Linked DNA regions of Homo sapiens: regions 1, 2 and 4 are each linked to region 3. The links come from fine-mapping of genetic effects on gene expression. A gene starts in region 3. Each other region holds a variant in brackets. All regions are shown on one strand. Distances are between the middles of the regions.

Evidence for each region.
Region 1: its variant is fine-mapped to the expression of C4orf50 in whole blood (TOPMed, PIP 0.99).
Region 2: its variant is fine-mapped to the expression of C4orf50 in whole blood (TOPMed, PIP above 0.99).
Region 4: its variant is fine-mapped to the expression of C4orf50 in whole blood (TOPMed, PIP above 0.99).

The regions. Positions count from the first base shown.
Region 1 is chr4:6,150,567-6,158,443 of GRCh38, reverse strand. The region is part of intron 1 of JAKMIP1 (janus kinase and microtubule interacting protein 1); the gene reads left to right. Among named protein-coding and RNA genes, the nearest start is that of JAKMIP1, 46 kb to the left of the region's middle. RefSeq lists an enhancer at 5,036-5,205. The variant A/G (reference allele first, on the strand shown) is at 5,285.
Region 2 is chr4:6,178,621-6,185,472 of GRCh38, reverse strand. All of the region lies in intron 1 of JAKMIP1 (janus kinase and microtubule interacting protein 1), which reads left to right. Among named protein-coding and RNA genes, the nearest start is that of JAKMIP1, 19 kb to the left of the region's middle. RefSeq lists an enhancer at 4,405-4,694. The variant G/T (reference allele first, on the strand shown) is at 4,364.
Region 3 is chr4:6,015,467-6,020,466 of GRCh38, reverse strand. C4orf50 (chromosome 4 open reading frame 50) reads left to right here and starts at 2,036. Exons shown (of 12, transcript NM_001364689.3): 1 at 2,036-2,322. The coding sequence starts at 2,036.
Region 4 is chr4:6,103,757-6,111,805 of GRCh38, reverse strand. JAKMIP1 (janus kinase and microtubule interacting protein 1) reads left to right here. Exons shown (of 21, transcript NM_001099433.2): 3 at 5,839-6,333. Among named protein-coding and RNA genes, the nearest start is that of C4orf50, 89 kb to the right of the region's middle. RefSeq lists an enhancer at 5,586-6,118. The variant T/A (reference allele first, on the strand shown) is at 4,565.

The DNA of each region.
Region 1 (7,877 bases), 140 kb before region 3:
GGTGGCCAGGTGAACATCGCAGGGGTCCTGCCTCTGGAAGCCTTCCTGGAGCCACGTTCACCTGTGGCCATCACTGAGATTCCTACATGGATACAGACTGGGAGGCAGACACCACCCCATCCCACTACCATCCCTATGATGTTAGGTTCTGGGCTTTCAAGTGCTTCATAGCTGAGCTTGTGACCCCTGGTGAGAAGCATGTAGTATCCGCAGGGCAAAGTTGGGATGTATGGAGCGTGCACTGCATGACCTACAGCATGGTCTGCCCTCCACACTGTGAGGCGATCCGTTCTCCCCATCCTTGCGTTCCAGGTCAGGAGAGGAGGTAGAGAGAGCAGGAGTAACTTGACCAGCGTCTCACACAGGGAGAGGGACGGCGCTGGCCGACAGCTTGAGCCCTACCTCATAGCACATAGCCCTGGAAATGTGGCCCAGATAACTCTTCTGAAGTTGTAGAAGCTGTGTTCTTTGGGAGAATGAAGTGATCCATAGAAAGAAAGCTGTTGCATCAGGAGTTAGTGCTGCTGATGCAAAGCAAGACACCCTTGGTTCTAACAGAGCCCAAGGAAAGGAAATAGACAACAATCTGTTAGCTGTGTTGGCATCTAATTTAAGTTTTTTCATCAGAATTCTCGACTCTACGGTCCCTCACTCACACCCTACTGGGTGTGCTGCTTCATGGCTGGTGTTTACGGAGAGGCATATCTAACCTGCTCAGTGAATGTGAAACCACAGACAACTGGCACCAGTTTAAACAGGAGAAAGCAGGGGTTAGGTAGCATGTCCAGGGCTACGCTGGGGAAGATGGCTGAGCTGGGATTCTGGTGGGATTGTAGCTCGGAGATCCCGGTTCTGAGTTGTGATGGTCTGTGCCAGTGGCTTATGAAAAAGTTAGGAAAATGATGGATTCTTAGTCAAAAAAGGTGTTACGGAAAGTGTACGCTGAAGTTTGATTTGAAAATTTGAAGATTCTTATATCTATAATTTGTAGCTTCCTAAATATCACAAATTACCTGAATTACCATAGAAATTGCTGCTTTTCAGAGAGCTTTCAATTTAATCTCATTTGGTTCTTGGGACAACCCTGTGTTGTGCGCCAGCTTCCCATCCCGTGCGCCTTTTTGCAGAGGGAGTAACCTGCCCAGGTGCACTCGTCTTAGTCCATTTTGTGTTGCTATAACACAATATCACCACCTGGGTAGTTTATAAAGAAAATAAATGCGTTTCTTACAGTTCTGGAGGCTGGGAAGTCCATGGTGGAGGGACCTGCATCTGGCAAGGGCCTTCTTGCCACATCTCATGGCAGAAGGCAGCAGGGCAAGAGAGTTCCAGAGAGAGAGCTGAGAAGGGGGCTGAACTCAGCTTTTTATCAGGAATCCACTCCGGCAATAATGGCATTAATCCATTCATGAGGTTAGAGCCCTCATGACCCAATCACCCCTTAAAGGTCCCCCCTCTTTACACTGGTGCATTGGGGATTAACAGTGAACTTTGAGGGACGCATTCAAACCACTAGCCATGGAACTTGTTATAGAAAATTCAGGGCTGTGGCTGTTGGCCAATGGGGTGTGGGTCTACTGAACAATTGTAACGTGACCAACACCTATCATGGGCAGACCATGTCCATGTGCCAGGTGTGGCCATGAGATTCCCAAGACCAGACATCTGGGGACAGTGGAGCTGGGATGTAACCAAGGTCTAGCCCAGAACTGACCTTTCTTGTACATCCTACAGCCTTCAATGAAGGAGATATTTTAGCTCCCACATCTCAGCGGATGCTGTCAGACATTTCCTGGGTGAAGACAGATGAAAGCCTTCCACATGCATCAGATCTTTGAGTTGCATCTCAGTAGCTAAGCCCTGGGTCACCAGGATGACTGGGGGCTGAAGCCGAACGCTCAGAACAGATGGCTCTGGATTTATTTCTGCAAATTATAAGAAAGGAAATGCACAACAATCTGTTAGCTGTGTTGGCAGCTAATTTAAACTTTTAAATCAGAATTCTGGACTCTGTTAGGTACCGTATTTTATTAAATCTAAGCTGCTGTCAATTGGGACATGCATCATTATTTTTGTACCACTAAAGAAATGGGAAAAAGTGCTATTCATTAAATGATGATGGGGCATTGAATGTGAGATGAATCTTGATTTCAGAAACGTTAACTTAGGATCAGTGTGATACAGTGGCATTCGCTTGTTCCTGTGTTGGCGGGCCACTTCCGAGGGCTGGCTTTGCGCGTGGCTGGCTGGCTCTGTGCCGGGCGTGGTACGGTGAGAAGATGTTCCCGGTCTCTGCTCCCAAGAAACACACAGATGGGTCAGGTATTTAGAAATGCCAACAGATTATTTCAGAATAGTTTGTTGATGGATGGGTTTTCTGGATCACCAAATATTTCTTGAAGATCCATTATTGTGCTGGGCACTGTTCTACGCACTGAGGAACCCACCACGGACAGAAGTCACAGAGCTGACCCTTTCCGTGGCAGTAGATATTCATCCCCAGCAGCGGTTCTCACACATTACCGCACAGAAAAATGTATGTGCAAACTTAAGATTGCCAGGCCCCACCTCTAGAGAGTGCCATTCATGAGGTCTAGGGCAGGACCCAGGAAGGCTGCATGTTAGCAAGCACACTTGGGAATCAGGATACACAGGCCTTCAGAGCAAAATTTGAGATGATAGAGCTTCAGCTTAAAGGACACTATAATATCCCGTTCTATAAATGTGCCATGGGACATACAGTTGTTGGTGAATATTTAGCAAATATTTAGTTGGCTGCTTATTTTCCTTGTTGTAAACAGCACATCCGTGCATGTCCCTGCAGCTGAATATGCGCGTAAATCCTCCGTGAGTTCTTTAGGGGAAATCAGGTAGCAGCGCTGGGCGTTTAGAAGTTTTCAGAGCCAGTTAGGAGTTTGCTGTCATTTTTCCAACCACCATAACCCACCCTGGAACCAAACTGTCTGGATTTGAGTCCCGCTTAGTAGCTGTGCACTTTTGGACAAGTGTTTTAGCCTTTCCATACTTTTTAAATCTCTAGAATACCTATGTTTTAGGGTTCTCTTGAGGGTTAAATATAAAGTGCTTGGAGCAGAGCTGACGCAGGATAAGGGCTGGGTAAACATTCGCGGTGGTGGTGGTTGAGTGGTGGTTGCTGGTATTAAAAGGCGTTGAGCGCAGAGGAGGGAATGTTGTTTCCTCCTTAGGAGGAGCATTCGTCCTCCTCGTGGGCACACCAGGGTCACTGCGGAGGGAAGCTCCAGCCAGGCATTCATGTGTAGGCCTTTTGATAGCGGAGAGTCAACTGCATTGTCACAGATCCAATTTCAGCACACCCCAACACTGTCACCAGAAGTATCTTCCCAGCAGGCTGGGCTGGCATCTCCCGACTGTCTTCCCACTGCTCGGGAATGAGCTTTAAATTCCTTTATCCACAGGACAAGGAAGGAAGCCTCTGAGGCTCAGGCTCCACCCCAGCTAAGACCCCCCACCCTACCCCGCACCTTTCCCTGCGTGCTCTGTGTTGGTTTGTGGAGTGAGAGGGTCTCAGGGGGCTTCCTGTGGGAGGCGATGGATGAATAGGCCTTCGAGGAATGAATAGGAGCTTCCCAAGTGGAGGAGGAAGGAAGGACTGTCCACTGGATACAAAGGCAGAACAGGATGTTTAGGGTGCTGTCTGTAGTTCATGATGGCTGGGGGTGGGGAGTTAGGAGTGGGCTGGGTAGTAAGTAAACTGAAAGAGGGGTTCAGCGGGCCGGATTGAAAAGAATTCCATTTGCCAGGGCTGCAGAGTTGGGCACAGTCCCTGCGTGCAGTGGGCTGTGCGTGTTGGGCTCTTGGAAGCCTTGCTAAGTTTCTTGGTGTCTGCCTTTTCGGTATTGCCTTTTTCAAGGCTGAAATGCATCCTCTTCCTTTTATATCCCCCCTGCTTTTTTTTTTTTTTAAAGGACTATAGACATCTGACAAATTCCTTGTCCAATCACTCAGGGAACTAAAGGCTTCTGTTCGGTTTTTAGCTTGTTGTGAAATGGGGACTTGGAAGGGGACCACTCTCTTCACGCTCTTTGTGGTAAATCCTTTCTGGGCATGCAGATTTAACATCCTAGGGGGTTTTCCTTGCAATGGTTTTGATGTGAAAATGACCGAATTATTAAAGTAGTTCAATGGCCTAAAATAGGAGCAACTCTCCCCAGTGCAGCCTCTCTGCACGTCCAGTGATTTGCTTGTTTCTTCAGCCTCCGCCTGTGTCCAGCTCCGCTCTGTCTTCCCTCCTGCGAGGGTCAGTGTCTCCCTGAGTGCAGGGTTTATCAGCTCTGCAGGACACAAGCCTGTGCCTTCTCACCATAGGCAGCAGGATGCAGTCAGCCAGGCATGGTCTGGGGGCTGCAGAGATGGCCTTGAACTCTCACTCTGGTTCAGCAGCCAGTATTTAGTAAACATCTGCCGCATACAAGACCTGGGCAGACTCTGTGACAAGTAAGAGGCAGGATCCAGACTTTCCCAGCCAAAAGGGGCCTCAGGGAGCGGGTAGCTGGTTCCGCATTTCTCAGTGAGAGTGCTCACCAGTGTTGCGATGTGAGATTTTAGGTGACAGTAGCCAAACATAATTTATTTTAATAATACTTTAGTGTGCATTAGGGAAAATATAACTGTATCTTATAGTTATAAAATATAGCACCTGAAGCCTATGATTTGGGGGATATTTTTGCTTAGAATAAGGCTGAAGTAGTGTACAGGTTTTTCAAAAGTCAGTAGTGTTAAAGAAAAGTACTAAGCACATAAAGGTAAGGTGCCGAGGGGCACACGGGAACATGATGGCCTTCCACAAAACGTTCTCTCTCCAGATTGTCAGGGCTGTCTGAGGTGCACCCTCTTACAGCGCAAATTACACCTCCGGAAAGCTAATTTTAAGAAAAGAAGAACCATGCATTTTATGCAGAAGTCACAGCGGCGGCAACTGATGACTGAGGTTTGGGAAACACCGTTGGCTCCAGTGCTCATTTTTCAAAACATGAAATTGAAGCCTAGAGAGGGCCAGGGTCACAAGGCTGTGGAGAGAAGAAGGGGCTTCAAATCCCAGGGCTCCTGATGCTCAGCGTGGCTCCTCTTCTCACCCAGATCTGCCTGTGACCAAGGCCTGTGTGAAGGAGGCCAGGCTCGGGGAAGACCCCTGGAGCTGAGGCTGAGAGGCAGGGACGTTGGGGCCTCTGAGTAGGAATCAGGGTGCTGTCGAATGGTGAGCAGGTGTTGGCCTCTGGTGAGCTGGATGCCAGGAGAGTCTGGT[A/G]GAGCTTGATTTTGAAGCCTTGGCTGGCAAGTGTGAATCTGCCTGTGTAGTCTTCAGGCAGGTAGGGGAGGGGGATGTGCATGGGTGGGGCTGGTCACAGAAAAACAGACTGAGCTCAGGTTAACAGGAAGGTGATGTGGGTTTCCTAGAATTGGGGCTAAGGGATGCCCACTTCTTTTTGTTTTTTTGAGACGGAGTCTCACTCTTGTTGCCCAGGGTGAAGTGCAATGGCGTGATCTTGGCTCACTGCAACCTCCGCCTCCTGGGTTCAAGTGATTCTCCTGCCTCAGCCTCCTGAGTACCTGGCACTATAGGAGCCCACCACCATGCCCAGCTATATATATATATGTATATATATATATATATATATTTGTATTTTTAGTAGAGACAGAGTTTCGCCATGTTGGCCAGGCTGGTCTCGAACTCCTGACCTCAGGTGATCCAACCACCTCAGCCTCCCAAAGTGCTGGGATTACAGGCATGAGGCACCACACTCGGCCAGGATGCCCACTTCTGTGAGAATATTGCAAAGATCTGCTGCAAGAGTGAAGTGTTGAGTATTGGGATCAAAGAACTAGTGTTTAAATATAGGGGTTAAAGGGTCACATAAATATTCCCCGGCATCAGGATCAGAGGTCGGGTTTTCTCTTAGAGACTGCCTGCCTTTTATTCGTGCGGACACAAACTCTTCCAATGCCAGGCCTTATCTCTGATCATAGGATGCAGAGCAGCAGGCAGCTCCCCAGCCAGTTGGTGGTGGGGCTGGGTGAGGGCGGTTCTAGGAGCTGGGGCTACAGGCTTAGGTAATGCAGCCTCCACCAAAGAGGAAGAAAGGAAGGCTTGGATGAGTGAGTGAGGACTCTTGATCAGAGTCCCAGTGGGAGGTCATGGCCTCAAGTGGAAGAAATTTCACCTTTTTACTCCCATTTAGAGCAGCGTTTGCTGGTTAGATAGTTTTATTCCGAGTTGATTTGACTTCCTCCCTCCCTGCTCTCTCTCACTCTCTCTCTGTCTCCTCTTTTCCCACCCTCCCTCTCTTCCTTCCTCTCTCCCTTCTTCCTTCCCCTGTCTCTTTCTTCTTCCCTCCCTTCCTTCCTCCTTCGCCTGCTTCCTTTCTCCTTTCCAACCCTGAGACCTTTATTAAGTGGTAACAGTGTATCAGGCATAGTGGCGAGCCCCGTAGTGGTTACCAAGTAAAAGTCATCATAACAACAGCAGCTAATGTTCAGGGAAGGTCAATGTCATGTACCTGGCACTGTGCTCACTGCTTTTACTTATATTGTCTTGTTTAATTCTCATAACAACACTATGAGTTTGGTATGGTTATTGGATAATCTCATTTTACAGGTAAAGAAACAGATCTAGACAAGTGGAAGGACTCACTGGCCTAAGGTCTCACTCCATACCCTTAGCCACTTTGCCGTCCAGCTTCAATGGCTATTGAGATCCACCTTCAACTCTAAGTTTCAAAGAACTTGAACAGCAGACAGGAGAACAGGTGGTTCCAGCCAGGAGGACTGGAGGACTCTGAGCTTAAATGCGGCTGTGAAGGTCACAGTGCTGTGAGTGCAACTAGGTGGGGCATGGGAAGCTCTAGGAAGACTTAGGGGAGGTGACATTGAGGCTAGAGTTGGCCAGGTCTGGGGTGGTGAGAATGGTGGGTAAGCAAGCAGAGGGCCTTCTGGGCAGAGAGAACAGCTTGGGCAGAGGCATGGAGGCACCTCAGAGAGGGCGCTGAGCATTTGGGGATTTGGAGGCAGTATTTTGTGGTGCAGTGAGGAAGAACATGGGAGTCTGATCTCATCTTTCATCTTGGCCCTGCTATTGCTGGGCTTGAGATCTTGAGAAAGTTGCAGACACTTCTTAAGCCTTAGTTTTTCCGTAGGGAAAGTGGGAATAATTACAGAAGTAACTTCATAGGGTTGTGGAGAGGATTAAATGAGGTCCTGTATGGAACATAGACATGGTGGCCATTGTTTTCATTTTTGGCATGTAGGGTGCTATGGCCGTGTCACAGTTGGGAGGGCAGCAGGAGACAAGCTCAGGAGCTTGAATGCCAGACCAGAGTACTTGGGCCACAGCCTGGAGACAGTGGGAGACTGGGGAAGGTATGGCGGGGGCGCTGCACAAGGTCACATAGAAGCCAAAGCTTGGGGAGAAAGAGCTGCCATCCCCAGCAGCCTTCACCAGGTGTTTTGCTTTTGGTGGATGACAGGGACCCACTGGTGGGGTTGTAAATGTGTGTCACCTGGGCACACTCAACGCTGACTGCTTCAGGTGTTGCACTGGGTGTCTTCCGGTGGCAGACATTATTACTGTCTTGCTCAAGTGGAGGAGCTTGAAGCTGGGATGCGGAAATTTCTTGCCTGTTTTCTTCTTCCCGCCATGGTCTAGGAAGCTGATTTTAGAGGCCTGCCTTTTAACGTGCTTTTAAAAGATTTTTCTTCCTACCTGTAGCATCAGGGCAGTTTTCTGGGGCCCAGATGGAGTCTGTTGGGTTTTGAAGAGGAAGCCAGACAGACGCTGATGCAGGTGCTGCCGGCCCCGTGGTCTGTTCATGAAGGTCAGGAGTCCGTTGAGCGCCGTGGGAGCT
Region 2 (6,852 bases), 160 kb before region 3:
GGTTTCACTGTGTTAGCCAGGATGGTCTCGATCTCCTGACCTCATGATCCGCCCACCTCGGCCTCCCAAAGTGCTGGGATTACAGGCGTGAGCCACCGTGCCCGGCCCCTGGGGTCTGGCTTTTAATGAGCCCTCGGAGCAATTCCAATACACTCTCCAGTTTAAGAACTAGGGCAGACAGGGCTGGTTCCCACTTGTATTAGTCAGGGTTCTCGAGAGGGACAGAACTGATAGGATAGATGTATATATGAAAGGAAGTTTATTGGGATAATTGACTCACAAGATCACAAGGTGAAGCCCCACATTAGGCCATCTGCAAGCTGAGGAGCAAGGAAGCCAGTTCGAGTCCCAAAACCTCAAAAGTAAGGAAGCTGACAGTGCAGCCTTCAGTCAGTGGCCCAAGGCCTGAGAGCCCTGGCAAACCACTGGTGGAAGTCCAAGAGGCCAAACGCTGAAGAACTTGGAGTCTGATGTTCGAGGGGAGGAAGCATCCAGCACGGGAGAAAGATGGAGGCCGGAAGACTCAGCAAGTCTGCTCTTTCCAAATTCTGCCTTCTTTATTCTAGCTGTGCTGGCAGCTGATGAGATGGTGCCCACCCACACCGAGGGCAGGTCTGCCTCTCCCAGTCCACTGACTGAAATGTGAATCTCCTTTGGTAAGATCCTCACAGACACACTCAGGAACAATACTTTCTATCCTTCTGTCCAATCGAGTTGACACTCAATATTAACCATCACTCCACTTATCCTGTAGTTATGCATTCTGTTTGGCTGTTTCTAAAATAGTTGACAATTGGTTGCTTCCCTTCGATAGGCACAATCACCCCTGCTCTCTTGCTGAATCTACAGGTGAGCGCGGGGGACCCTTGTTTCCTAGAGTGCAGACAGCAGCTCTTCCCGTCCATATAGCACCCATCCCACACTGGCGCTCAGGGTGGAGGGTGTGCTTGGCTTCTAGTATTTTCTTGAGGAAGAGGGAAGGCACCCTGGCTCTTATACTGCACTTGCCTTGCCCTCTCTCCCTCCTTGTGATGCTGAGTGTGGGCTGTATTGTCATTTCTAGGAAAGGAGGGAAGGCGGCAGAGTCTGAAAACCAGCAGTGGGCTGGGAGTAGGGAGGCGTGTGTTCGAGGCATGCCCCCTTCCTGGCTGTGGTGCCTGGGAGCGGTTCTTCCTTCCCTAGGGCATTTGTGGAGTGTCTGCTATGTGCTGGGCACCTGGTTTCTGCCTATTGAGAAGGGATGATACTCACAGGACAGTGTGATACACTCACCTCTCTTTGGGTTTGTTTTCCCATCTGCAAAATGAAGTCTTTTCAAAAATAAAATTTTTACATAGCTAAACCACCCTGCTCCAATATACAAAACAGAGAAGTGATGGTTTATTCTCACATTTATCTTATGACTTTAAACTGACAACATTTACCAGTTATAAGGTCAGTCAGTGAGGACAGTGAGGTTGCTCTGATGAATTCAACTTTCAAAACGAAAAGTATAGGGTGACAGTTGCAATCTGAACAGCTGTGGCATCTTGAGTATTAATGGACTTTGTTGTGGTTGTGAAAATATTCTGTTGTGACGATTTGCATACCGCATTTGTGATTCCGTTTTTGGGAGTGACTTGTCTTGCATTCTCAGAGTGCATTTCACTGGAGATGACAGGAGAGGCTGTCCCCCAAGCCCTGCACAAAGCTGAGTGTTCACCTGGCAGCCCAGGTCCCTGCAGTGGGGTCTACCAGGGTTAATATTGGGTTTGCAGCCCATTTGAGTTGGTGTGATGTTTTCACAGTTTAAAATTATTACACCTAGAAAAAAGAAGTCAAGCATCTGTTGCTCCAGACCTTTGACTCCTGGCCCTCCCAAACATCTTCAAGGAGCACCAGGACTCCATGGAAGGTGGTTTGAAAACCAAGTCCCAGCACCCTGAGTACTGAAGTTTCTGTTCCATTTTACTTTCTTTTTTAAATTTATTTATTTATTTATTTATTTATTTATTGAGACAGAGTCTTGCTCTGTCACCCAGGCTGGAGTGCAATGGCATGATCTTGGCTCACTGTAACCTCTGCCTCCCAGGTTCAAGCGACTCTCCTGCCTCGGCCTCCCAAGTAGTTGGTATTACAGGCACCCGCCACCAAGCCCGGCTAATTTTTGTATTTTTAGTACAGACGGAGTTTCACCATGTTGGCCAGACTGGTCTCAAACTCCTGACCTCAGGTGATGCGCCTGCCTCAGCCTCCCAAAGTGCTGGAATTACAGGCGTGAGCCACTGCACCTGGCCCTGTTCCATTTTAGACATCAGCCAGCACCCCTTCGCAGGGCACCTGTATCTGTGTGTCTAGATATCTGTGGTATTGTTATCTGCCTGTATCATGTTTAGCTCTTTGTTCTGTCTCAACCTTCAAGAGTCCTTGTATTACTAAGATGGGACCTGGGAACCTGGAGCCTCCAGGACCATCACTGGCTGAGCTGAGCTGAGCTGAGCGGGAGGAAGGGCTGCCTTGGGAGCTGGCACTGGCCTGACCTCCAAGTCTCTGTGAGCAGACCTTGAGGGACCTGTGCCTTCCTAGGCATCTCCAGGTCATATCTGCTCCCTTCTTCCTCGGGATGGCTGTGGAGTTATAGGAAGTGTTTGGGGAAAGGAGCAGTTGTATCTAGAAACGGTGATATGTTTCCGAAACTCACACTGTCACTCCACTGCTCCAGGGGCTCCCCGCTGGCCCAGGATAAAGCACAGACTCCTTGTCATCACACATGTGGCCTTATCTCCTGATGCTCCTGCTGTTACCTACTGTCTCAGACCATTTGGCTGCCATAGCAGAAATACCATAGACAGAGGGGCTGAAACAACAGAAGCTTATTTCTCACCGTTCTGGAGGCTGGAAGTCTGAGATCATGGTGCCAGACAACTTGGTTCATGGTGAGGCCCCTCTTCCTGGTTCGCAGGAGGCTGCCTTCTTACTGTGCCCTCGCATGGTGGAGAGAGAAAGGAAATAAGCTCTCTTGTGTCCCCCTCCTTTTTTTCTTTTCTTTTCTTTCTTTCTTTCTTTCTTTTTTTTTTTTTTTTCTGAGACAGGGTCTCGCTCTGTTACCCAGGCTGGAGTGCAGTGGTGTAATCACTGTTCATTGCAGCTTTGAGCTCCCGGGCTCAAGTGATCCTCCCACCTCAGCCTCCCAAGTAGCTGGGACTACAAATATGCACCACCACACCTGACTAATTTTTTTAATTTTGTAGAGATGAGGTCTCATTATGTTGCCCAAGCTGGTCTTGAACTGAGCTCAAGCAATCCACCTTCCCCGGCCTCCCAAAGAGCTGGGATTACAGGTGTGAGCCACCGAGCCTGGTTTCCTGTCCCTTCTTATAAGGTCACTAATCTCATCATGAGGGCTTCACCCTGATGACCTAATTACCCACCATAGGGTTTCAATGTATCAATTTGGGGGGACATAAACATTCACTCCATAACACTGTCCCTTACCTTATTGAATCGTCTGCTTTCCCTGAACTTGCCCAGACCCCTCCTCCTCCTGTCTGCACAGGCTCATCTCCTTGGGCATCACCCATCCTCCCAAGGCCAGGGCGGGTCCCTCCCTGTACATCTGTCTGTCACAGCCATGGTCACAGTGTGTGACTGATGCCATTCACAGTCTTCTTCCCCGCTGGCTAGAGCTCTGTGAGGGAAGGGGCTGTGTGAGATTCATGTTTGAGGCTCAGCACAGGGTCTGGCATGGAACAGGCACTAGGATGCTGTTGAATGAATGAATGAATGAATGGAGCTTGCGTTGCTGCTGCTCTCCCTCTCTGATGCCAATTGACTTTTCTTTGACCCCTGCTCCTCCATCTGCATATCCTGATTTCACCCCTTCCACAGCCCACTTTGGATGTCCCTTCCCTCACCACGCTGGCACCCATAGGCCCTGGTCTCCCAGTTATCACCTGGGCTTGTTACAGTGTCTCCTTTGCTTGGCTAGGAGCTCCTCAAGGGATGGGGGAGCCACTGAGACATTGAGGGACTCTGCAAATGTCTGCACCTGAGAAGGACTTCCTTCTGTACTGAGCTGGTGGTAACCTGATAGTGACCTGGTAGTAACCTGGCAGTAAGCTCATCTTGGTTTATGTACTCCAGGCCTGTAATTAGTGTTACTCTTCGAGCCCCTGGTCTCTTCCTCTCTCAGCATGACCCTCCCCTCCACCCTTTCTGGAACTGCTTTCTTGAGAGGAAGCCTAAGAAATGTGAACTGCGTCCACCAGCACATCTCACAAAGCCTTGTGCACACAGGAGGTGTTTGGTAGGTGTCTGTCAAGGAGCGCCCTGTTCAGCATCTAGTCATATCAAGCCCACACGGGGTGGTGAGTATAGAAAGGAT[G/T]TAGAAACCACAAAAAGAAGTTGCCCTTTGCTTGGAAGTCACTGACTACCCCTTCTTGTTCTTGGTGGTGTGGTTACTTGCTAGTCTCTTGACTCATTTCAGCAGAGGTGAGACAGAAACGACCTGATGGCTGGGGCCTTTTCTGGGACTTCTTAAGGGGTCTTTGCACGTTAATAAAGGGGAGATTCCAAAATGATGCAATGAGTTGGCCAAGAGCCAGCAAGTAGCAGTTGAAAAAGAAAAAGTTTTTATACTAAGCTTGGGACTTGAGCAGCTAGACTCCTCCCTGCTCAATGTGCCATGGCCCTCTGAGAACAAAGCACGTTGACAGAAAATTAAATGTCACTGAATTAGCTGCAACATCCACTTGCTACAACCTCCACCCCCACTTGCTAATTGGGTCATGTTGGTCAAAGTACTTCACCCCTTCCTGCTGGTCCATTAAAATGGGGGTACTAAGAATACCCTTGTCACAGGGCTGCAGAATACTAGGTAATTTGGACAGTTTGAAACAGTTCCTGCTACACAGTGAGAGCTATATAAATGGTGACTTATTACTTGGTGCATGTTTGTTGAATTGTAGTAAATTATCTGATGGGAGAGGGGTGTCTGTGTTGTTATGGTGCTTAATTCTTCTTGTAGCACAGGTATCGGTCCCCATTGCCTATCCTCACCTCCAAGTTTCTCTCCTGTTCAGCAGCTGATAAGATTTTATAGTGAAAATCTCAATAAGAAAGAAGACTTCACGTGCACAGAATGTTCTAAAGGAAGCTTCATTATGTTCTCTTGAATGTTGATAAACAACTCTCATTTCTATTTGATGAGAATTTTTTGTGGGTTCTGAATGTTACGAGTAGCAATTTTATCAGAAATTATTTCTGTTTGTGGGTATGTTTGGTGGGGAATTGAAGTTGGTGGTTTTCTGATATTGGAAGCATTTCATGAACTGGGGTATTTCAAAACTGCTGTTTATGAAAGTGTTGGGGCTAATTCAGTGGCACTTAATTTTCTGTCAATATGCTTTGTTCTAAGAGGGTCATGGCTTGTTGTGCAGGAAGGAGCCTGCTGTTTATCCCTGCAAATGTTCTTGCATGGCTTCTAAGAGGATGTCAGGCATGCTGCTGGTCCTAGGGATAGAAAACAAAACAGACACAGTTCTTTGGGCAGCTGGGAACTGGTCTTAGATTCAGAGAGACCTGGGTTCAAGTCCTGACTCTGTCATTTACAAGCTATGGATTTTAAGAAAGTGACTTCACCTCTTTGAGCCTCAGTTTCCTTATCTGTCATATGGGGATAATATTGCTACCTGTTTTACAAGGAGGCTTTGAGGATGGATTGAGATGAGGTGTACCCAGCATACTACCTGGCATAGAATAGTCTCTTCTTTTGAGTGGCAGCTCTTGGTTTAGCTGTTGCTTTTGGTCTGGGGGCAGGAGTGATACCCCAAGAGACCCATGCAGCCTGACTCAGGGCCACTGCTGGGCCACTTCCCTTCCCTTGTTCTCTGCCTGGTGCAATGAGCAGGGTCACCTTTTGCAGAGGAGGTAGGTTTGTGTCAGGGCAATGGGCTTGGTTTCCTGTGGGTTTGTGGCTTTGTAGGGTTGTCCCTTGACGGTGCCTGTAGGGGGTGTCAGGAAGGTAGAGGAAGGAGGTGGTGGTGGATGGGGCAGGGTCTCCCTGTGTGGGGCTCAGCCTTCCTGTCCTGTTCCATCCAGTCTGCCTCTTGGCTGTTGCATTTACTGAGTACTCACCTGAGCAGGTGCTTTAGGTTCCTCTTTAAGCCTCTCAACCACCATGCAAGATGGTAGGAGGAAACCAAGACCCCACGAGGTTAAGCAGTCATTTAGGGGTTAGAGTTAGTGAATCTGGGGCTTTGAGATGAGAATCTCACCCTCTCTCCAGCCACATAGGGCTGCCCAGGTGGTTTCAGCAAAGGTGGCATGGGAGACCTAGGTGTGCCTGTGGGTCCTTCTAAGACCATTTCATGAAAAAGAGCAACAAAGGTTTGAAAAGCACATTCTAGTCTTTCCCCAACCACTCTCTGGACATATAGCCCAGTTTTATTTTTTCCTGGGAATATGCTATACCAGCTTTGTAACCTGATCTTTTTGGATGTGGCAATCCATTCTGAAGACATTCCAGAGAAACAATTCATAAATGAATGACCGAGTGTGCTCTCCGAGCCAGGCACTGTGCCGGGGCAGGGAGACAGCTGGTGAACAATCCCATGTGAAGAGGGAGGGACCTTAATCAAGTACGAGGTGCTCTGAGGTTGGGAGATGGGGGAGGTTTGTGTGGGGATGAGGTCAGTGGAAGCCTCTCTGGAGACATGACCTAGAGAATTTGGTAGGGTATATTAGTCTGTCCTCACATTGCTAATAAAGACATACCTGTGACGGGAATTTATAAAGAAAAGAGGTTTAATTGACTCACAGTTTTGCATGGCTGGGGAAGCCTTAAAAAACTTACAATCATGGCATTAGGGGAAG
Region 3 (5,000 bases):
TTTTTTGAGAAGTTAAGTAATTTGTCCAAAATCACATCTGAGAAGCGATGGAGACAGGCCTGGAACCCAGGCAGCCTGGCCCCAGCGCCTGGGATCTGAGTGGCTCCACTGCACCCCCATCCCCCGCCTCCAACTGCCCCAGGTCCACGGAAACCCCTTGTGGCCAACAAGACATTGGCCACTGTTGGGAAAATATGATTAAAGACAAAAGCTTCTCCCAGCACAGAAAACCTCATCACAAAGAAAATTTAAAAAAGGTTTATTATTGAATAAGCATTAAACCAAGATATGAGGTGCATTACAGGTAACCCACTGAGAGATTGCAAAGACAGTAAGAAGTTTCACCCTTTTATATGGCCAGGCAGGCACAATCCATGCACACATCCTCTCTCATCCCTGCGGAAAAGGACTCGATAGCGTCATTGTTTCACATGGTTCATCCTAAACTCACCTGACAACGAGGGCAACCCTCTGTGTTCATTAATTTGTTTTATACAAAGGAAAAAAAAGCTTCTCCTGCACCTGGGTTCCACCCTTCTGTCACTTACTGTGACAGGTTTTGCATCTCGGAGCCAGGCGCCTGCCCAATTCGGCTCCTTCCTCCCACTGAACACTAGGGGCGCTGTTTTCCTTCGAATTTACATCTCAAAGAGGCGGTGCCCAGGTCCTTCAGGGAAACATTCCTGAGTCGTAATGCTGGAAAAGGCTTATTTCGCTGTAAAAAGGATTTACACATATTTCAAAGAGACAAAGAAAGAACTTACACATTTTCTAAAGTAGATGCTTTAAGAAAAGGGAGGGAGGACGTCTCTTATTTTTAACAGGGAGACGGAAGCCTCTCATTTTCTATTTGTCTTGGTCCTGACGCCTCTTTGCACCAGGCCTGGCCTGTGGCGCTGCCTCCTCCTACAGGTGCAGCTGCCTCCATCTCGCTCCTGCAAACCCCAGAGTGCTCGATCCTCAAAATGACATTTGACCAGGCACCTCCCTTCTCCCAGGGGCCCACAGAAACGCCGGAGTCCTTGAGTGCCTGAGAGAAGATGGCACCCAGCCTCCTCTGTCCTCACTCCTCACTTCCTCCTTCTGTGTGTCCACGGGGCCAGCTTTGTCTGGTCCTCCTGTTCCCTTCACTTGTCCTGCCTGTCTGTGCGGGTCTGTGGCCTGAGGATGCTCCCCACCTGGGGGAGTCTCCTCCCCACCTCTCTCTGCTGTAATTCCCCATTCCTCCTACGATCTCTTCAGCCTCATGCTCGCTCCCCCTCCTCAGGGTGCCCAAAGGATGCGTTTGCTCCTTTTCTGGGGTCTTGTTGCTCACCTATTACTGTATCTCCTGTGTCAGAACACACACACTCCAGTTTGGGAGTCAGATCCATATTTGAATCCTGATTCTGCTACTTCCCATCCCACCTGTGGGACCCGGATAAGCTCCTTCACCTTCCAGAGCCTCCGTCTGACCATCTGTATAATGGTCATGTTAACGCCCACCTCATAAGGTCACCGGGAGAATTGGACTAGGTAAGGCATGAGAGGCCCCTGCCCTGGATGCAGACGGCACCCAGGGCAGCATAAATTTCCCATCCTCTTCCCCTAGCAAACTCTAGGTCCTTGAAAAATATGTGCTGTGCTCAAAGAGGAGGTGTGGAACCTTATTCATTATGTGGTAAAAAGATAAGCTTCATTGACTACTGGGAGTCTGTAACATCTGATGGCCTTACCTGGAGGTCTTATTTTTCCTCTCTGTGTTCATCACTAGGCATTTCATCTCAAGTGATTTTTCTGCAACTTTTTCTTGCTTTGCGTGAGTTCTGGCATGCTGACTTGTAAAACGAGAGGCTTTCATTCATATTGTATGACGCTTGTGCAGATGAAACCCAAGTCACCCACTCATGAATAATCCACCTGTTCTTGCCCTTCTCAAAGGATATTTTCCTGAACAATCTGAAGTCACAAACACCACCTTGAAATCTCCGGGAAGTCAATGTTGCAAACTCACTTAATTTTATTATTAAGTCTTGCCCCATGAAATATTTCTGAGATGGAGCCAACAGCCAAGGGACGGACTGAGGAGAGTTTCAGCTACGTCATCAGAGCCCCCAGCAGTGAGGGGTTCGACATAATGAACGTTGATGTGAAGATTGACACATCCTGGATATTCCAGGACATGGAAGATAGTGCTGAGGAGCGGGAATGTCTTCAGGAAGAAGCAGCTGGCCGCCCAGACATGGATATGGGTGCGCTCAGGAGGCAGCTGGAGTCCTCCGAGCAGAAGCTGTCAGCAGCAGAGGACAAGTACGTGACATCGGAGTCCGGGCTGAGAAGCAGGTAGCGATGCCATTTTGATCTCTCTGTGTGTATTTCACAAACCGCGGGGCCATCAGAGTGTGTCACCATGGTGTGTTGAATCACACCACACAGCTGGGGAAACTGGCTCACCAAAGACACGTAACCTGCCCACGCAGTCACTTGCCTTCTGCTCCTCCCGCCCTCCTTCTTCTGCTCTGTACCTGCAGATGAGGCTGCCCGGGCTCCTCTGCTCAAAGGCTTCCATTTAGGTGCAGCCAATGGGAGGCCCTGAAACGGAGGGAGGCAGGGAGAAGCCAGGTGTTCTCCCTCTCTTCTTCTCTGGGTGACTGTTCCATGAAAGGGCCCTATGTTCAAAGTGACAGGGAAGTGTAGAAGGAACTGAGAAACCAAGGACAGAGGCAGACAAATCCAGTTGGTCGGTTTGGGGTGATTTTTTTAGGGGAACTGGCAGACAGAAGCATGGTTTTAGGCAGCCGCCAGACAAGTAGATGTCCACACAGCAAACCTTCCATCCCCAACCCAGGGCTTATATCCTGGGGAAAAAGCATGTGTGCTCTGGAAGGCTTGCATAGGTGGCTACAGGCATCACAGCCTATGGTTTCTGCAATGACAAGGGTTGTTTTGGAGGAAACTCACAATGAATAGGTGTTTCTACGTAAACAGAACTATATCAACTCCACATCTTGGAGGCATTCGTGGACTCAGGGTTAGTCAAGAGTCACCTGCTGGATTAGCGTTTAAAATAAAGTCACTCTTGTTCCCACAGTGACATCTCCCACTGTGGCTGTAACTCAGATGTGCTCTCGGCTTCCTCTGCGGTCCCAGCTCCCGCTGGGTGGCCTGGCTGCTCTGCCCTGCCCTGGTAACATCGTCTCTTCCCTGTGTGGCTGTCCAGCCCCAGGGGCAGAAGTGGCTTCCGGCAGTTGCTAATCCAGGCTGCCTGTCTCTGTCTGGCCTTTGGACTCTGCTGTCATCTTTGAAATAGGTTCTCCGCATTCGTTTCTCTCTGTAGAACTTCCTGCTGTGGGCACTGTTTGCCTGATGGAGCTGACCTGGCCTCAAGGTGGGGCGTTTGAATCCAGGTCTTTCTCTAAAGCCCATCTTCTTTCCTGACGATGTCTTGACACCCAGACTGGCAGAACGAGGTTGGGCCTTGTATATAGATCAGCGAAACCCAGCATGGAAGCACAATGCAGTGACAGCGGGGATTGATTCTGACACGTTACTCATATCCCAGCAGCCACGTGCCTTGGATTTTTGCGGGACTTCCCCATTTTCTTGTACTTGCCTTTGATTTAGTAAAGGCAGACCATTGAACGTGTATGCACATGTGATTTACTTTTCTTCCTTTTGGTAAAGTTTTATGCATGAAGAAATTCACAAATCAGAAAAATTCTTCTGTTACTCTATGTGATTGCCCATTCTTTCATTCATTCTGCAACGCACTTACCCTCCGAGAGTCATATACAAAGTTATGTTAGTTTGCCTGGGTTGCCATGACAAAGCACAGTAAGTCCTCACTGAACGTTGTCTATAGGCCCTTGGAAACTGTGACTAAGTGAAGCAACCTACAACAAAACCAATTTGTTTTTGTTTTTTATTTTGCTTTGTTTTGAGATGGAGTCTTACTCTGTCACCCAGGCTGGAGTGAAGTGACATAATCTTGGCTCACTGCAAACCCCACCTCCTGGGTTTAAGCGATTCTCCTGCCTCAGCCTCCCGAGTAGCTGGGACTATAGGCGCCCATCACCACGCCTAGCTAGTTTTTGTATTTTTAGTAGAGACAGTGTTTCACCATGTTGGCCATGCAGGTCTCGAACGTCTGACCTCAAGCGATCTGCCTGCCTTGGCCTCCCAAAGTGTTGGGATTATAGACGTGAGCCACCACACCTGGCCACAAAACTAATTTGACCATAGGCTAATTGATACAAATAAGAGTTAAGTTCCTACAGCATATTTCAGGTCACAAAAACATCACCAAACTTTGAGATAAAGACCCCAAACACTTCTAATGTTAAACATTGAAATAAATGTGAAAGGCTCAAACAAATTTAGATTTAAGAAAGACTCAAAAAAACACAAGTAAGATGATTATTTACCCAATTGTTCCAGTTCAGGGTCACAGGTGGCTGAGGCCTCTCCCGGCAGCTCAGGGTGCAAGGCCTGAACAGGACACTCACACCCACGCGCACACTCACGCAGGCTGGGACTATGTCGACATGTCAAGGATGGTGACATGGGGATATGGACCCAGATTCGCCGGCTGGTCTCTAAGACCAATCACAAGTATCCTTGCGAGAGGGAGACAGAGAGGGTTGAGTCTAGGGATGGCAGTGTGGCCGCCAGTGTGGGATTGCATGCAGCTGGCTCCAAAGATGAAGGCAGGGCCAGGAGCCCAGGAATGCAGCTCTAGACCTGGAGAAGACCAGGAATTGGATTTCCCCTTCAGCCTCGGAGAGGGCTTGGCTCCACTGACAGCTCGACTAGCTCAGGAAGACTGATTCCGACTTCTGGCCGCCAAGCTTGTGGTGACGTGTTACAGCTGCAGGAGGAGACCAGGGTACCCCGAGAAAGCCCACACAGACATGGGGAGAATGGGCAAACTCCACATAGACAGTGGCCCTGGCTGGGAATCTTTTTTTTTCTCATCAACATTATAATGAAATGGCATTATTTGCAGACCTGGGTGACTTAAC
Region 4 (8,049 bases), 90 kb before region 3:
CTGCGATATGAGCTACTTTCCTCTCTCCTAAGGCAGATTTGAGCTTTGGAGCTGGTCAGGACAGTGCCTGGTTGGGTGCTGGCAGTCTAATTAAAGCACGGGCTGTCACAGAGGGGAGGAGCACAGGCTTTCTAGGCAGACCCGGTTTCAAACCTCAGCTTGTCCGCTAACTGGTCTCATGATCTTGGCCAGGTGACTAAAAGTCTCCGAAACCTCTGTCTTCTCATCTGACACCAGCTATTATGGTGTAATTATAGCTGTCCGGTTTAAGATGGTCATGAGGATCTGATTAATGGATGCAATAAAAAGCCCCATCAACATCTGGTGCCCAGGCACAGCTGCAGTCCTATTTGGTGGCCTGCTTCTGACTTGGGTGGGCTTGAGGGTAGAGCAAGCCCAGGGTTCTGTGAGCCCAGAGAGGAGCTGCCAGCCAGGCTGAGCACAGAAAGAGCATGGAGATGCAGGCTTGCTCCTGGGTGGCTCGAGCAGTTGAAGGTCTATCTGAAGCCCCGAAGGTGCCCTCTGGCTCCTGCTGTAGTACCTGGAGTGACGGGTGGAGGCTGCTTGGGGAATTGCAGCAGGCGTCCCTGTCTTGTTGAGCTGGGACTCAGGTCGCCAATGGAGTGCTGGGCCAGATCCAGCTTCCAGGTGGGGACGGGGCTGGGGCCTGGGATCTGGCTGCAACCCCAGCTCAGGATGGCCACACAGAGCAGAGGCTGAGTTCTGGACCAGGGGACTGGGCTTCTGGAACTTGGGGACAGATGCACCTGTCTCCATCCCTAGGTGTTCAAGATTCCAGGCCGAGTGCATCCAGCCTCTTTTAGACATGGATGCTGGTGATGCTGACCTGTTCACCCTTTAGCCAGGTCAACAGGCCAGGTCACCTCCGGGGCTGGGGCTGGGGCTGACTGGCTGGGGGTGTAAGGGCTGGCAGCTTGTATCTGGACATAGCTACAGCAGCTGTGGTGACAGGGAAAGCTGCTCACTCATATCACACTGCCTGGGCTCAAATCCCCTCTCCACCACCACCCCTGCCTGAGGTCTTATAAGCTGTGTAACCCCCTGCCTCAGTTTTCCCATCTGTAGATGGGGACCTCTAAGGTGTCTGCCTCCTGGGTTGTTTGAGGAATGAATGAGACAGTCACACACAGGGCCTGGGTGCTGCCTGTCATACGCTCACATGACCATCAGGGTGACCTTTACATGCCTACTGTGCAGATAGCACCAGGTGCTTTAGAGGGTGTCATGACCCTGGCAGTGACCTGAGAGATCAGGTGTGGCTTCCCCCGTGTTACAGGTGAGCAAGCCAAGGGCTGGAGAGGGCGGGGACTTGCCCAGGTGTGTTAGCTTGCCAGGGCTGCAGTAACCAAGTCCCACAGATAGGGCGGCTTACGCAACAGACGATTGCTGTCTCACAGTCCTGGAGGCTGGCAGCCACAGATCCAGGTGTCAGGATTGGCTCCTTCTGAAGCCTCTCTCCTTGGCTTGCAGACGGCCGCCTTCTCCCTGTGTCTTCACATGGCTTTCTCCTCTGTGTTTGTCCATGTCTGTATTTTCTGTTCTTACAAAGACACCAGGCAAATCGGATTAGGGCCCACCCTAATGACCTCATTAGGATCTATCTCCAAATGGAATCACATCCTGAGGTCATGGGGGTTAGGACTTCAACATATGATTTTCAGGGGGACACAGTTTAGCCCCACACACGAGGCCAGCACAGTAGGTGGTATTGCAGGATTGAAAGCCAGGCCCATGCGGACCCCAGGCTGGGCCTCCCTGTTACCAGGCTGCCTCCCTGCCTCTGGGACGTGTGGCAATTTCCACTTGGATGCACGCTGGCTGATTATTTTCTCAATCCAGCCATCCATGTGGCCGCTTCAGGTTGACTTTACCCATCTGGCTGCTGGGAGAATTTCAATTCTCTGAGAATTCAGTAATGTGCTTATTGACTGGTACAAAAAACATAAATGCAAACTTTACAATTGCATTGAAGTGTTACTTTGATATGATCTCACAATCACTGTCAATGTCCCATTTAAAGTGCTGGCATTTTAGCAAAGCATCCCTGTTGAACACTGTAGGATGAAGGAGGGTGGTAAACGTGTCTGTCTATTCATCTGCAAACCCCTGGCATGCATGCTCCATGCCTGGGCTGAGTGAGAAGTGTTTGGAAGTAACTCAGAGACAGACCCTGTCCTCAAGTCGCATGGGTACAGAGCCTCACAGGAAACCAGCAATACAGCAGCCCTGGGCACATTCCATCAGAGGTTTTAGAAAATAGTGCAGGGACAAGCAGAACCCAAGGCTTCACAGGGGCAGTTTTGTGGGGGTTTTGTGGAGCATTTCCTTACTTTCTGGCATTATAAGATGCCCCAGGCTCCGCAGTGGCTCATGCCTGTAATCTCAGCACTTTGGGAGGCCAAGGCGGGCGGATAATGAGGTCAGGAGATCGAGACCATCCTGGCTAACACAGTGAAACTCTGTCTCTACTAAAAATATAAAAAAATTAGCCGGGCGCAGTGGCGGGTGCCTGTAGTCCCAGCTACTCTGGAAGCTGAGGCAGGAGAATGGCGTGAACCTGGAAGGCAGAGCCTGCAGTGAGCCAAGATCGTGCCACTGCACTCCAGCCTGGGGGACAGAGCGAGACTCCGACTCAAAAAAAAAAAAAAAAAAAAAAAAAAGGTGCCCCAGGCACATCTTGTATATTTCCTACCCCAGCGCTAGACCCAGCAGTTTCTCTAAGGGGTCCTGGTTCCTTTTATTGGAGAATGGCATTAGAAACAAAGATCCAGGCACCAGGCGTGCCCATCACTGCTGCGGTGTCATTGTTTCTAGGCCCTCTCAGCTGCCAGAACAAGGAATATATATGTGTATACTGACCTGCGTATGTACGCATACCTGTAAATATTTCCATATATGACATCTATATCCATACAAAGTCAAACATGAGTTCTTACAGATGTCCCAAGACGCATCCACTGCCGCATGGCTCCCTTCAGCCTCCTCTTGCTTGTCTGTAACCTCTTACTCCAAGTGGGAAACCTGGCTTCCCCCTCTGCCATCCACTTTCTTTGTTCAACACTATACATGTATGATGGTTTCAGAGTAGTGAACTGGTACCCATGAGATTTAGAGGGCTTTGAGCATGGAGGGTGTGGCGGGGAGGGCTGCTGCAGGTGGCTTGGGCAAGGGGGAAGTGGGGAAGTGGCCAGGCCTGGACATGGAGAGCCAGTGCTGCTGGATTGGATGAGGATGAGGATGGAAAGGGGTGAATCTGACTCACTCTCTGAGTGGGAGTGGCAAGTGAGGGTGGTGCTGGTGGTTCAGATAATTTCTCCACGCCAGCCCCCACACCCCCAGGGCATGCTCCCTCTCTTGGCCTTTGTGCCGTGGCTGCATTTAGAGTCCAAGTGCTGAGGAGCGGCTGGTGTAGGTGCCTCTACACTTGGGGTAGCTTGGAGGCACCTGGAGGTAAAGTGCTGGGCGGCTTTTTTTGGCCTGCTCAGCTGGATGGAGTGGTGGTGGGAGGGAGTGCTCTGTGCCCATCAGAGGTCACCCCAGCCTCACTCTGCTGCTTCTGTGGCATAGGTCATGTCACCTGGGCTTGGCTCTCAGCAGCTTTGGGCAGAGCTGGAGGGACCCAGCAGGGCCCTGTCCCCAGGCCCCTGCCTCTCTGTCACCATCCCTGCCCTACACACCTGGATCACCAGCCTCAGCAGCACCTCTGCCCCTCCCAGGAAGCAGCCCCTAGACGCCCCGGGCTGCCCTGCACAGGCCTCTGCCCACCCTTCCATGTTCCTCACCCCCTTTCTACCTGTGTCTCTCACACGAGGCTGCCCACCCCTGATGCAGAAAGTCAGAACCACGATAACAACAGACTTCCATTCACCCACCCACAGTCACCTCATCTTCCTCCTCTCAACGGGCCTTTGAGGGGCAGCTGTTGCCATCCCTGTTTCCTAGTAGAGGAAACTGGAGCTCTGGAAGGTTGTGTAGTCAGGGTTCTTCAAAGAAACAGAACCAATAGGTTGTGACACACACACACACACCCCCCACAGAGTGAGAGGTTATTCGTTAGTTTTAAGGAATCGGCTTATGCGGTTGTGGGGCTGGCAAATCTGAAATGTGTAGGGCAGACCAGCAGGCTGGAGATTCAGGCAAGGGTTGATCTTGCAGCTTCGAGTCCCAGTGCAGCCGGGAGGCAGAGTTCCTTCTTCCGCAGGGGACCTCGGTCTTCTCTTAAAGCCTTCGACTGATTGGATGAGGCCCACCTACATTGTGGAAGGCACCGTGCTTCACCCAGAGTCTACTGATGTAAATGTTAATCTCTTATAAAATGTACCTTCACAGCCACATCTGGACTGGTGTTTGACCAAACGACTGGGCATTGTGGCCCAGCCAAGTCGACCCACAACATCAGCCACCATAGAGGCAGAGAAATTTGCCTGGGGAAACGCAGCTCATCAAAGCAGATTAGGATCTCATTGGATCTGACCCTGCTGGCCCCAGATGGCTGTCGGCATTAACCAGGGACTTGACTGTTGCCTCGCAGGAGGGAGAACAG[T/A]CAAAACCATTTTGTCCATAACTGGGACAATTCTGTTAAATACTTAAAGTTCTGGCTTCCTGCTGCTAAATCCACTAGGAAAAGATGCTGATTGCTGCCCCCAGGGTAAGGTGGACAGAACATGGACTGGTCGCCTGGCTTCATTCCTATGATTGTGAGTATCTGGTGAAAGGAGATGTTGATCTTGTGTGTTTGCCTGGGTTGGTTTTATTTGCTTTTTTACCTGCTGTTTTAAGTAAGGATTTATCAATACTCAGGTGCCATTGTAAAACTTCTCACCTAAAATTAATTTTAACATGTGACTATGCTATCAACAGTGTGGTCTGGGGAAAAACATTGCCATTTTCCCTGGAAGCAGCTTGTCCACCAGAGGCAATTCATTTCAGGTCTTCAGAGACGGGCAGAATTCAGGAAATAAGGGCTTGTCAGGCGTTCCTGTGGAATGTGTGTTGAGTGATATTTGAAACAAAAAGGTTAAAGAAAGCATTTTGAAGTGTTTTAAGAACACACTCCCTTGGGACGTTTTATAAGTAATGTTTTGAATTGTTTGCTGATAAAATGAATAGGCTCAAGGCGGGGTGGGTTGCCTGGTAGCACAGGGTCCTCATCCCTCACCCTGGGCAGCTCACCAGACTGTCTCTGATCTTTGGCTGCCTCATGATAAAACAGAGGAGAGAGAGAGGAAGAGAGAGAGAGAGAGAGGAGAGAGGGAGAAAGAGAGGGAGCACGCTACTTCCTTCCCAAGACCGTGAGGGGTTCATGTGGCAATGTGGGTGATGCATTGGAGCCCCCAGCCCAGCTAGGGACCCCACTCAACAAGAATGGTGCCCCCTGCTCACTGCCCCCCAGGACTTAGAAGCCTGGTCTGTCTTTTCCAACTCCACAGTCCGCGCATGGGGCCCTGGAAATATATTTCTGGTTTACAATCTTTTGGGTCTTGGTGATGATTTCTGCAGGGTGTGTTTTGTGATTGAGCAGTCGTCTCAATTTACAACCTGGAAGAGATGTCAAAGGCTTGAATGCCTCTCCAGCATCCTCAGGGGGTTTCCACCCCCAGGGAAAGTCTCAGGGAACTAGCAGGAGAGATTCTAAGTGGGGCTGGCAGGAGGGTCAGGCCTGCAGGGCACTGCCGAAGGGGGAATCCATGGGAACGTGGGCCCAGGTGGGTGTCTTGGGCGTGGGGAGGCTGTGGCCAGCTCCCCCAGCTGTGACCCTGACCCTGACCCTGACCCTGACCCTGACCCTGACCGGCTCTCTCGCCGCTCTGGCTGCAGGTGGGCAAACTGCGCGAGCGGCTGCAGGAGGCGAAGCTGGAGCGCGAGCAGGAGCAGCGACGGCACACGGCCTACATTTCGGAGCTCAAGGCCAAGCTGCATGAGGAGAAGACCAAGGAGCTGCAGGCGCTGCGCGAGGGGCTCATCCGGCAGCACGAGCAGGAGGCGGCGCGCACCGCCAAGATCAAGGAGGGCGAGCTGCAGCGGCTGCAGGCCACGCTGAACGTGCTGCGCGACGGCGCGGCCGACAAGGTCAAGACGGCGCTGCTGACCGAGGCGCGCGAGGAGGCGCGCAGGGCCTTCGATGGAGAGCGCCTGCGGCTGCAGCAGGAGATCCTGGAGCTCAAGGCAGCGCGCAAGCAGGCAGAGGAGGCGCTCAGTAACTGCATGCAGGCTGACAAGACCAAGGCAGCCGACCTGCGTGCCGCCTACCAGGCGCACCAAGACGAGGTGCACCGCATCAAGCGCGAGTGCGAGCGCGACATCCGCAGGCTGGTACGTGCCGCCCCCTCCCCCGCCCGCGGGCACGCGGCCTTCCCTCCCTGCACGCATGGGGGAAATGCGGAGCTCCGAGGACCTGCTGTGCTCCAGGCATTGTTCAAAGCACTGGGGCCCCAGCAACCTCCCTCCCGTCTTAGGTGTGGTAAGGAGGCTTTGGGGCTGCAGGTAATCCGCTCAAAGAACAGTTCCCCATTTGTCAAAGGAGCTTAATGGAGACTAGCGAGGGTTGTTGCAAATGCCTCGTGATAGCGTATCTAAGTGTCGGGCATTTATTGATTCATTTACTTCAACAACCATGAGCAGACTTCCATCTCCAGGTAAGATGCCACAGGTCAGGGCAGGCCGGCCAACTGGCTGCAACAGCAAGGGAAACATATAAATTGCAAATAGTCCTGTTTTGAAAGATACTGGAGATCTGTGGAAGCTGTGGAGTGTGGATGAACTAAAATTCCAAAGGGAAGGGGAAAGAGCCCTGCCTGGGCGGCCTAATTGCCAGCTGCTTTCTTCCCTTGGGGCATTTGTGGATTCTGGGTGCGGGCTGAGGATTGGATGTCCTCAGAGAGATGAGTAGGACTTTTCTGCCATCTCAGAGTGGGCATGAAACAATGGAAACCAGAGGAGCCCCACCTAGGCCAGCTTGCTGCACAGGAGATCCTCCTGAGTCCTGGAGTGAAGGGGGAGGCTGGCGAGCCCAGCTGGAAAGGCAGAATGACAGCTCCCATGCCCTCACTGGACGTAGGAGACAAAGGGAGGGGGCCCGCCACAAACACATGACCAGTCTGCCCCTCAGGGCGTTTGTCACACTTTGAAGCTGTGTGGGGCAGGAGGCTAAGAAGTAAAGTAAGCTGAGATTTTCAGACTGGATCAAAGAGTAACAGTGATATTTACAAGAGAGACATCTTAATTATGAGGACATGGTGACATGGAGCATAAGAGGATGGGGAAAGATACACTGTGCAAGCACTTCCTAAAAGCAAAGCTGGTCTGGCTGTATTAATGTCAAAGGCTCTAAGGCAAGAAGTAATACTAAAGACACAAAAGGACAGTTCTTAATAATAAAGGGTCAATTCAGTGGGAATGCATTCAATAACAAAACCTCAAAATGTATAAAAGAAAAAAATTATCAACACTAAAAGGAGAAGCAGACAAATCCACAGTTACGGTTGGGGACGAACACGCTTCTCTCAGCAAACAGTAGAACACACAGACAAAGAATGAATAAAGACATGATTTCACCAACACAATTAACCAACGTGAACTTACCTGACAGAGCACTCTATTCCACAACTGCAGAATACTGTGGACATGACATACTTTTATCATTGTAGACCGCATTTCAAAATTTGTGGGTTGTAATTAGTCCTTAGAGCAAAACATATTTTAGACAAAAAGAAGAAATGCTGAAAATCAAGCATCTAAACTTCTATCTCAAGAAGAAAGAAAAAGAACAGCAAATTAAACTCCAGAGAGTAGAAGGAAGGAAATTTTAAAGAGCAAGAAGCAGTGAAATAAAATCAATAAAGAAAATCAACAAATTCAAGAGTTAATTAAAACTGATAAATTGACAAACATTTAGCAATATTGATAAAGCAAAACAGAGACAATAAATTACTAATATCAAAAATGTAAAGGGGGAAATACCACAGCTCCTACAGTCAATAAAACCACAGCAAACAGCATATACCAATAAACTTGAAACCTCGATAAAAT